Linked DNA regions of Homo sapiens. The protein of the gene in region 2 purifies or fractionates together with the protein of the main gene of each other region. This does not show direct contact. Each region holds a gene or a part of one and is shown on either strand. Other genes may lie near its edges.

Region 1 (3,928 bases), about 15 Mb from region 2:
GCATAAGTAAACATCCCAGCACTTTGGGAGGCTGAGGTGGGTTGATCACGAGGTCAGGAGATCGAGACCATCCTGGCTAACACAGTGAAACCCCGTCTCTACTAAAAAATACAAAAAATTAGCTGGGCGTGGTGGCGGGTGCCTGTAGTCCCAGCTACTTGGGAAGCTGAGGCAGGAGAATGGCGTGAACCTGGGAGGCGGTGCTTGCAGTGAGCTGAGATCGCGCCACTGCACTCCAGACTGGGAGAAACAGCGAGACTCTGTCTCAAAAAAAAAAAGTAAGTAAACATCCAGAAAGAAACTAGCAGTATAGGAAAATAGTGGAATAAACTTTTTGAAAGTCCTATCTATCAACAGAAGGCTTAATGTAAATAACTGATATTAAAATAGGCAAAGTGCCTAAAAAAGACATTTCTCCAAAGAAGACAAAAAAAATGGCCAACAGGCATATGACATGGTCCTCAACATCACTAATCATTAGGGAAATACAAATCAAAATCACAATAAGGTATCATCTCACACCTACTAATATTAAGATGGCTATTGTCAAAAAGACAATAGATAGTAAGTGTGGGTGAGGATGTGGAGAAAAGGCAACCCTTATACACTGTTGGTGGGAATGTAAATTGGTAGAGCCATAAAAAGAACAATATGAAGTTGCTTCAAAAAATCAAAAATAAAACCACCATATGAGCTAGCAACCTCTCTTCTGTATATATACCTGAAGAAAATAAAACCAGAGCCTTTAAGAGGTATCTTCACTCCCATGTTAATTGAAGCATTATTCACAATAGCCAAGATATGACAACAACCTGAGTGTCCATTGATGAATAACTGGATATATATTCCACATACATTGCATATGTAGTGCATATACATTCCATATATAGTGCATATATATTATATATATTGCATATATAGTGCATATATTATATATATTGCATATATAGGGCATTTATATTATATATTGCATATGTAGTGCATATATATTATATATAGTGCATATATACTATATAGTGCATATATAGTGTATATACATTATATATTGCATATATAGTGCATATATATGCACAATGGAATATTATTTAGCTTTAAAAAAGAAGATCTTGCTATTTGTGATAGCATGGATGAATCTGGGGGACATTGTGCTAAGTAAAATAATTCAGACACGGAAATACAAATGCAATTTGCTTTCTCTTATACATAGAATAAGAAAATAAACAAGCATCATGTTGCACAGCTTAAATACATATTATTAAAAATGAAAACAAAGAATTTTTTTTAAAGGAATGTATAAAAGAAAAAAGATATGAGATTAAGAACATGAGTGAACATTCACTCAGAAACCAGCAGGATAGAAGAATGGTCGAATGAATTTTTTGAAAGTCCCACCTAATAGTAGAAGGATAGTTTAGCAGACTTCTGGATCTTATGCTTTGGTTTCAACAGTTACTCTCCAAAGTTCGTTTTAAATTTATTTCTATCCTAGGGATGGACAAAGTCTTAGCATGGGAATTATTTAAAAAGTCTCCCAACGTGGCATTCAAATTAATAATTCAGCTTGAACTATAGTTCTAGTCAGTTCAGTTCAGTCCAACAACCATTTATTGCAACTATTTATTGGTTGTTGCCACAGCAGATTCAGAAATAAATGACAACAGACCCTGACCTCAGGAATGTATGGTCTAGTCTAATAGAATACATGAGAGAGAGGTAGAAATGGAAAGAAAAGGAAACCCTACAATATCAAGCAAGTGCCTTTGAAGAAGGCATAAAGTGCACTGAGAATTCTAAGACAACACGTCCTTTTGTGGAGAGTGTCACTTGAGATAAATCTGCAGGAAAAATTGGAAAATGGATGGATGGAGACGCACTTAGAGAAGGAAGAGCAGGAGGAATGGCAGAAGTGGTAATGCATGGTACACACTCAGGGAACTTCAGCAGCTCATCTGGTGAGAGCTTTCAAGAACAGGCAGGGGAGAGAGGGTGGGAAAGTGCTTGAGGCCACAGGCAATGGCCTTGAAGACCATGGAGAAGAGACTGTATTAATGTGAGGAGAAAGTAGCTGAAGACTTCATTTATTTATTTGTTTGTTTACTTATTTTTATTTTTATTTTGAGGCAGGGTCTCCCTTTGTCGCCCATCCAGGCTGGAGTGCAATGGTGCAATCTCGGCTCGCTGCTATCTCCGCCTCCTGGGTTCAAGTGATTCTCCTGCCTCATCCTCCCAAGTATAGCCAGGATTATAGGGGTCTACCACCACACACGGCTAATTTTTGTATTTTTAGTAGAGGCGGGGTTTCACCATGCTGGCCAGGCTGGTCTGGAACTCCTCACCTCAGGTGATCCGCCCACCTCGGCCTCCCAAAGTGCTGGGATTACAGGCATGAGCTGCCGTGCCCAGCCTGCAGCTGAAGACTTTAGATCCCATGATCAAGGCTGTTGATCAACTCATTCCTCTTTAAAAACATAATGTTTCTGCAATAGGAGATAGCTTTTAGGAAAAAATGACAAAACTAATTGATAAGGACACATATTTTCTTTTCTTTTTTTTTTTTTTTGAGACGGAGTCTCGCTCTGTCGCCCAGGCCGGACTGCGGACTGCAGTGGCGCAATCTCGGCTCACTGCAAGCTCCGCTTCCCGGGTTCCCGCCATTCTCCTGCCTCAGCCTCCCGAGTAGCTGGGACTACAGGCGCCCGCCACCGCGCCCGGCTAATTTTTTTTTGTATTTTTAGTAGAGACGGGGTCTCACCTTGTTAGCCAGGATGGTCTCGATCTCCTGACCTCATGATCCACCCGCCTCGGCCTCCCAAAGTGCTGGGATTACAGGCGTGAGCCACCGCGCCCGGCCGGACACATATTTTCTACATACTCTGTGAGTATCTGATGCTTACAGTGAAGAAACCTGTCTGGAGCAAAATTATTATCTTTCATTATTAAGTTTTATTCAAATACATTCTCCCTGACAAGAGTTTATTTCTGAAGATCACACTGAAATGTGCAAATTCTCCTGATTATAATAATTCCAAACCTCTAGGCAGACATCCATGAACAACAACAACAAAAATTACCTTTGATATAAATGTTCTACACTACAATTATGTCTCAGTCCAAACTTACCCAACCTCAAGCTCCAAAACTTGTATCTGTTCTCTAAAGGAAAAAGAAACTCATATTTCATATTTTTAAAATTTTGCAGGTAGCCTCAAGTCATTGATTGATAAAATAATCAACCTGTCTTTTGTCCAACAATATGACAGATGTCCATTTTACAATAAATGTTCACTTGAATTAACCCCTCTATTATATCACTGTGCTCTAGGTTTATATGTAAACAGAAACTTTAGTGATTATGTCTCAACAGCAACACTCTCATAACAAACTCTACAAATGAGTAATATTTCAAAGTAAATTGTTTAACTCCAACAAAAGCAGGAAATAACAGAAAAATATTCAACCAGAGAAGAACAACTAAAATAAGTGTAAATTATATGATAAACATAAACTACTTCCCTCTAAAACAGAAAAGGGAATAATAGAGGAAATTAGCAGTTTATCTGCCCTCTGGTGGCAATGAAATCAACTGCAGCATTTACTAAAGTAACGCATAATAAAATGTCCCTGTTATGAAATCAGATGTTGTTCCTGTGCCAACATGTCTGTAATAAAGATCCTGATTGTTGCATGACAAACGTCAAGACTGCTGGACTTTTCCCCCCATACTGAATTTTTATATAGACTATTTTACAAATAAAGTTGTATACTTTTTTCTGTTTCACCTTGCTTTTTTTATATATTCAGTAAGCTAACCATTTAATTACAATATTTTTTTCATAAAACTACATGTAAATGATGTCCAGGAAAGAAGCTACTTCTGTTTATAAAAGTCTTCGAAAATTTGGCAAGGAATTTAAAACCATTCTTTTAA
Region 2 (3,928 bases):
CCCCACCTTCTTTACCTTGGGCTCAAGTGATCCTCCCACCTTGGCCTCCCAAATAGCTAGGACCACAGACAGGCATGATAATGCCTGGTTAAGTTTTTGTATTTTTGGTAGAGATGGGATTTCCTATGTTACCCAGGCTCAAACTCCGGAGCTCAAGGGATCCACCTGCCTTGGCCTACCAAAGTTCTGGGATTACAGGCATGAGTCACTGCATACACACTCCTAATTATTTTTAATATAGTGAAATTAACACATGGAAAAAGGCACATGGAAGAAATTATGGTAAGAATACGGTGTAAGTTCCTATGATTCGTCTCTCAGTGATGTTTCAGGAAACACACTGACTTCCTCCAGCATCACATTTTGGCAACATAGGGGAAATGTTGACTACAAGGGATGCTATTTGGAGACTCAATTCCCAAGATTTTAACTGGGTGCTGGTTAAATTGACCCAGTCTGTATAGCACACACCAAACTTCCGGTCTTGTAAAGAAAGCAGGTATACAGAAACCCCACACTTTGTACAACCAGTTAATTATAGATGCTACCCTTATCAGTTAGGAAGGGGTGAGAAATTCAACTTCTCAGATACCAGCCAGGCTCCAACTTTGAAAACAGGCGCATCTACGGGTGGCAGTCTATTGTGTTAACTCCTTTCTACACAGCCATTAGCCATTCTGTGTGCATGACAGAACTAAATACTAGGAGTAAAGACATACATTCCAAGGATGTAGATTTATACCTAAGAAATTAACTGCGACCTGTGAGAGATTAGTAAGGTACGCTTTATCCCTAAAAAATAAGACCAACTCTTTTAGAAACGATATAATTTCAGTGAAATTTAAAATTATTGACTTATCTACCAAATTTGGATAAAGATTTGAAAGGTATATTTTTTAAATGACAAAACCGTAAATGAAACAATTTTCTATTTTAATATAAGCTTTTCTGAAGCTTTCTTTTTCTAGTGAAATTAAAAGGAACTAGATGCCAGGTTGCACTACCTTCCCCTGATGCCAACCCTGATCCTCTGTTTGCTGTGCAGGCACTCAAGGTTTACCAAGGCTAGAGCTTCCGTGTTGTGCTTTTCCTTACTTCTCCTTCATGCCAATTTGCATTACAAAGTGAACCACTCCTGTCGATGGTCTTCAAGGTGTTTCTCTGTAAATTCTTACAACGTATAGTTGATCAAATTTAGACAAAAATTTTATGTGACTACTCCTTATTAACACACTTAGTAGTCTTGGAATACAAGTTTTCTTCCAGTGTAGAAATAGCTCAGTCTAGAAAAAATGTCTCCATTTTGCCCACTTCCGTGTCAGAGGGCCACCCCTATCATTTTGATACAAATCTGATGCATATTAACACGGACCAAAAATTTAAAATTTTTCTTGTGAGGTTCTAGGTTTTCCTTAGAATAAAGTTATTTTTCCTTTCAGATAATTTTCCTAGAGGTGAGAGTTGTGCAGGGCATTGTATTAAGTCCAGGACCAGTATTACTGTGTCATGCTCAAGACCACGCGGCAGCTCAGCAGTACTCTCCCAACAGTTTTCATACACCCCATCTTTAGGTGCTGTTACCACAAATGTTTCTTTTGATCACGTCTAGTAGAAGAATAAAAGATTTCTTCAACCACAGAAATAAATGGAGAAACCATTCTCACTGCAGTCATCTCCTAGAAAGGGAACTGCCAGGCAGTGTTCTTCACTGTTGAGTTTTATATATTCTGCCAAGCTGGGCAATACACAGAAACAGCATATAAAAACAGTGTATAAAATAAAAATAAGCAGTAAATTACCATATGACAGACCTCAGTGCAAAACAAACATTGACTACCTTTTCTCTTTGAACATAGAATAGCTCTAGCCCAGTAAGACAGACCACGTGAGTCACTCAGGGTAACAGAAACACAAAGCTGAACAACCCAGGTCATCGTTCACTTATTCTAGCTTTGCTCTTTTAAATGCTCAATGCTGAAAATGTGATTATTACCTCTGGAGGTGCATAGGTGCCAAATCCCAATACGGGCATGAAGTGACCATCATTTAGCTCTACACGCTGATATTTGGGATCCATTGCTTGCCACTTCTTTCACTAAGCAGATCCTGTTTCCTTCAGCAACATCTGGCATTTATATTCAGGGGTTATGTAAAACATGGGCAGGCAGTGCTGCACTGCTCCCTGGGGCTAATCAATGGCATGTAGGAGGAAGCAAGTGATGGTGTATTACACAGGCTGTGAGGAAAATTGAATCCAGTTCACTCGTTTCTTATCAAAGAGAATTTTTACATACATTATTATATAGTCAAAATATTTTTTTCTAAAGTGAAATTTTCTATTCAGAATCAATCAATCTCTCTCTCTGTCTGTCTGATAAACTCATCCAACAGGTTTATAGAATGATTGGTGATCATGTTAGACTATAAAATACCTCCAGCTACAAATCTTGTTTTTGTTCATGCCATGATGATATCCCATCTTTATCTTCTGTCATTTGAAATAATCAACCATCTTACATCTTTCTCTCAGACAGTATTCAAAAGAATGACCAGTGAGCATTTTTTTTTAGTGGTGACCCTCAATAAAGAAATTAAACAAAACCAAAGAAAATTTCTCTTTTTACGTTTTTCACCAACAAATTAATTTTGTTTCTTCTTTAATTGTAGTAGGAATATTCATTCCTGATGAAGGTGTGGTCCTGATGATGTGGCAATCCTGCAAAGGTTCAAAGGGAAAAGAAAACAGAAATTCTGACATGATGTTTATTGGAGTATTAATTATTAACAATGTTTGGACTTTGGACATCATTTGCAACATGCAAACAGTTCTTTAATAGTGTTTGTATCTTCCATCAGTTTTATAAGAAACCAGCAAAAGTAACTTCCCAAAAAGCTGATAACTATTTTATATAATTTGTGATCTTATTAAATGTTATAAAGAAAAAAGTAATTAAAATAAATTGGTGAATAATCCTCACATGGCATAATTTTACTTGTTTCTCCCATTGGAGGGCAGACTAGAACACGATGATTAGGCCGGGGGCAGTGGCTCACGCCTGTAACCCCAGCACTTTGGAAGGCCAAGGCGGTAGGTTTACTTGAGGTCAGGAGTTTGAGACCAATCAAGTGAAATCTTGTCTCTACGAAAAATACAAAAATTAGTCTGGAGTGGTAGTGGATACCTGTAATCCCAGTTACTCAGGAGGCTGAGGCAAGACAATTGCTTAAACTCAGGAGGCAGAGGTTGCAGTGAGCCAAGATTGGGTCACTGCACTCCAGCCTGGGCGACAGAGCAAGACTGTCTCAAAAAAAAAAAAAAAAACAAAAAACAAAAAACGAAGATGATTAACATCTGTGAAGAATCCATACCAATATCTGTTGTTGTCTGACATTTTAAGAATAGCCATTCTGACTGGTGTAAGATGATATCTCTATGTGCTTTTGATTTGCAACACCCTCTTTTCTTCTATTCACTTCTTCCTAAAAGGAACAATAAAAGAAAATAATTAGGTAAATTACTATACATTGAAGCAATGGAATATAATAGAGCCATTTAAAAATTTTCACACAGAGTGTCATCAGCAGGATGGTAGATTAGAAAGCTCTCAAATCTCCCATGGAATTATCAAAAAACAATCTGAAATGAACTAAAATAAACTCATTTATTTATAGAGTGGCTCAGTAGAGATGCAGGGTGACTATAGATGCACAGATGCCACTGGCAAGAGATTAGGGGGAAGAGACATACAATAGGCCATCTATGGCACTTAGGAGAAGCTGAGCTGTGAATTTTTGACATGATAAGGTATTCAAAACCATTGGGTATTTGGAGAAATCAAATAGGGCACACAGAGTCTAGGCAGATGCACGTTCAGAAAAGAACTGAGAAGACCTTAAGTTTTCATGTAGGGCTGATGTCGAGACTAAG

The links.
Region 1: the proteins of AKR1C4 (region 2) and PLXDC2 purify together in Homo sapiens (affinity purification with mass spectrometry; 3 studies listed by BioGRID and IntAct, with this or other methods). This does not show direct contact.

Annotation. Positions count from the first base shown.
Region 1 is NC_000010.11:19,819,273-19,823,200, reverse strand, and holds part of PLXDC2 (plexin domain-containing protein 2 isoform 1 precursor), read right to left. Parts: intron 1-3,928. UniProt on the Homo sapiens protein: May play a role in tumor angiogenesis.
Region 2 is NC_000010.11:5,195,017-5,198,944, reverse strand, and holds the start of AKR1C4 (aldo-keto reductase family 1 member C4), read right to left. Parts: upstream 2,109-3,928; 5' UTR 2,078-2,108; coding exon 1,994-2,077; intron 1-1,993. UniProt on the Homo sapiens protein: Cytosolic aldo-keto reductase that catalyzes the NADH and NADPH-dependent reduction of ketosteroids to hydroxysteroids. Liver specific enzyme that acts as an NAD(P)(H)-dependent 3-, 17- and 20-ketosteroid reductase on the steroid nucleus and side chain.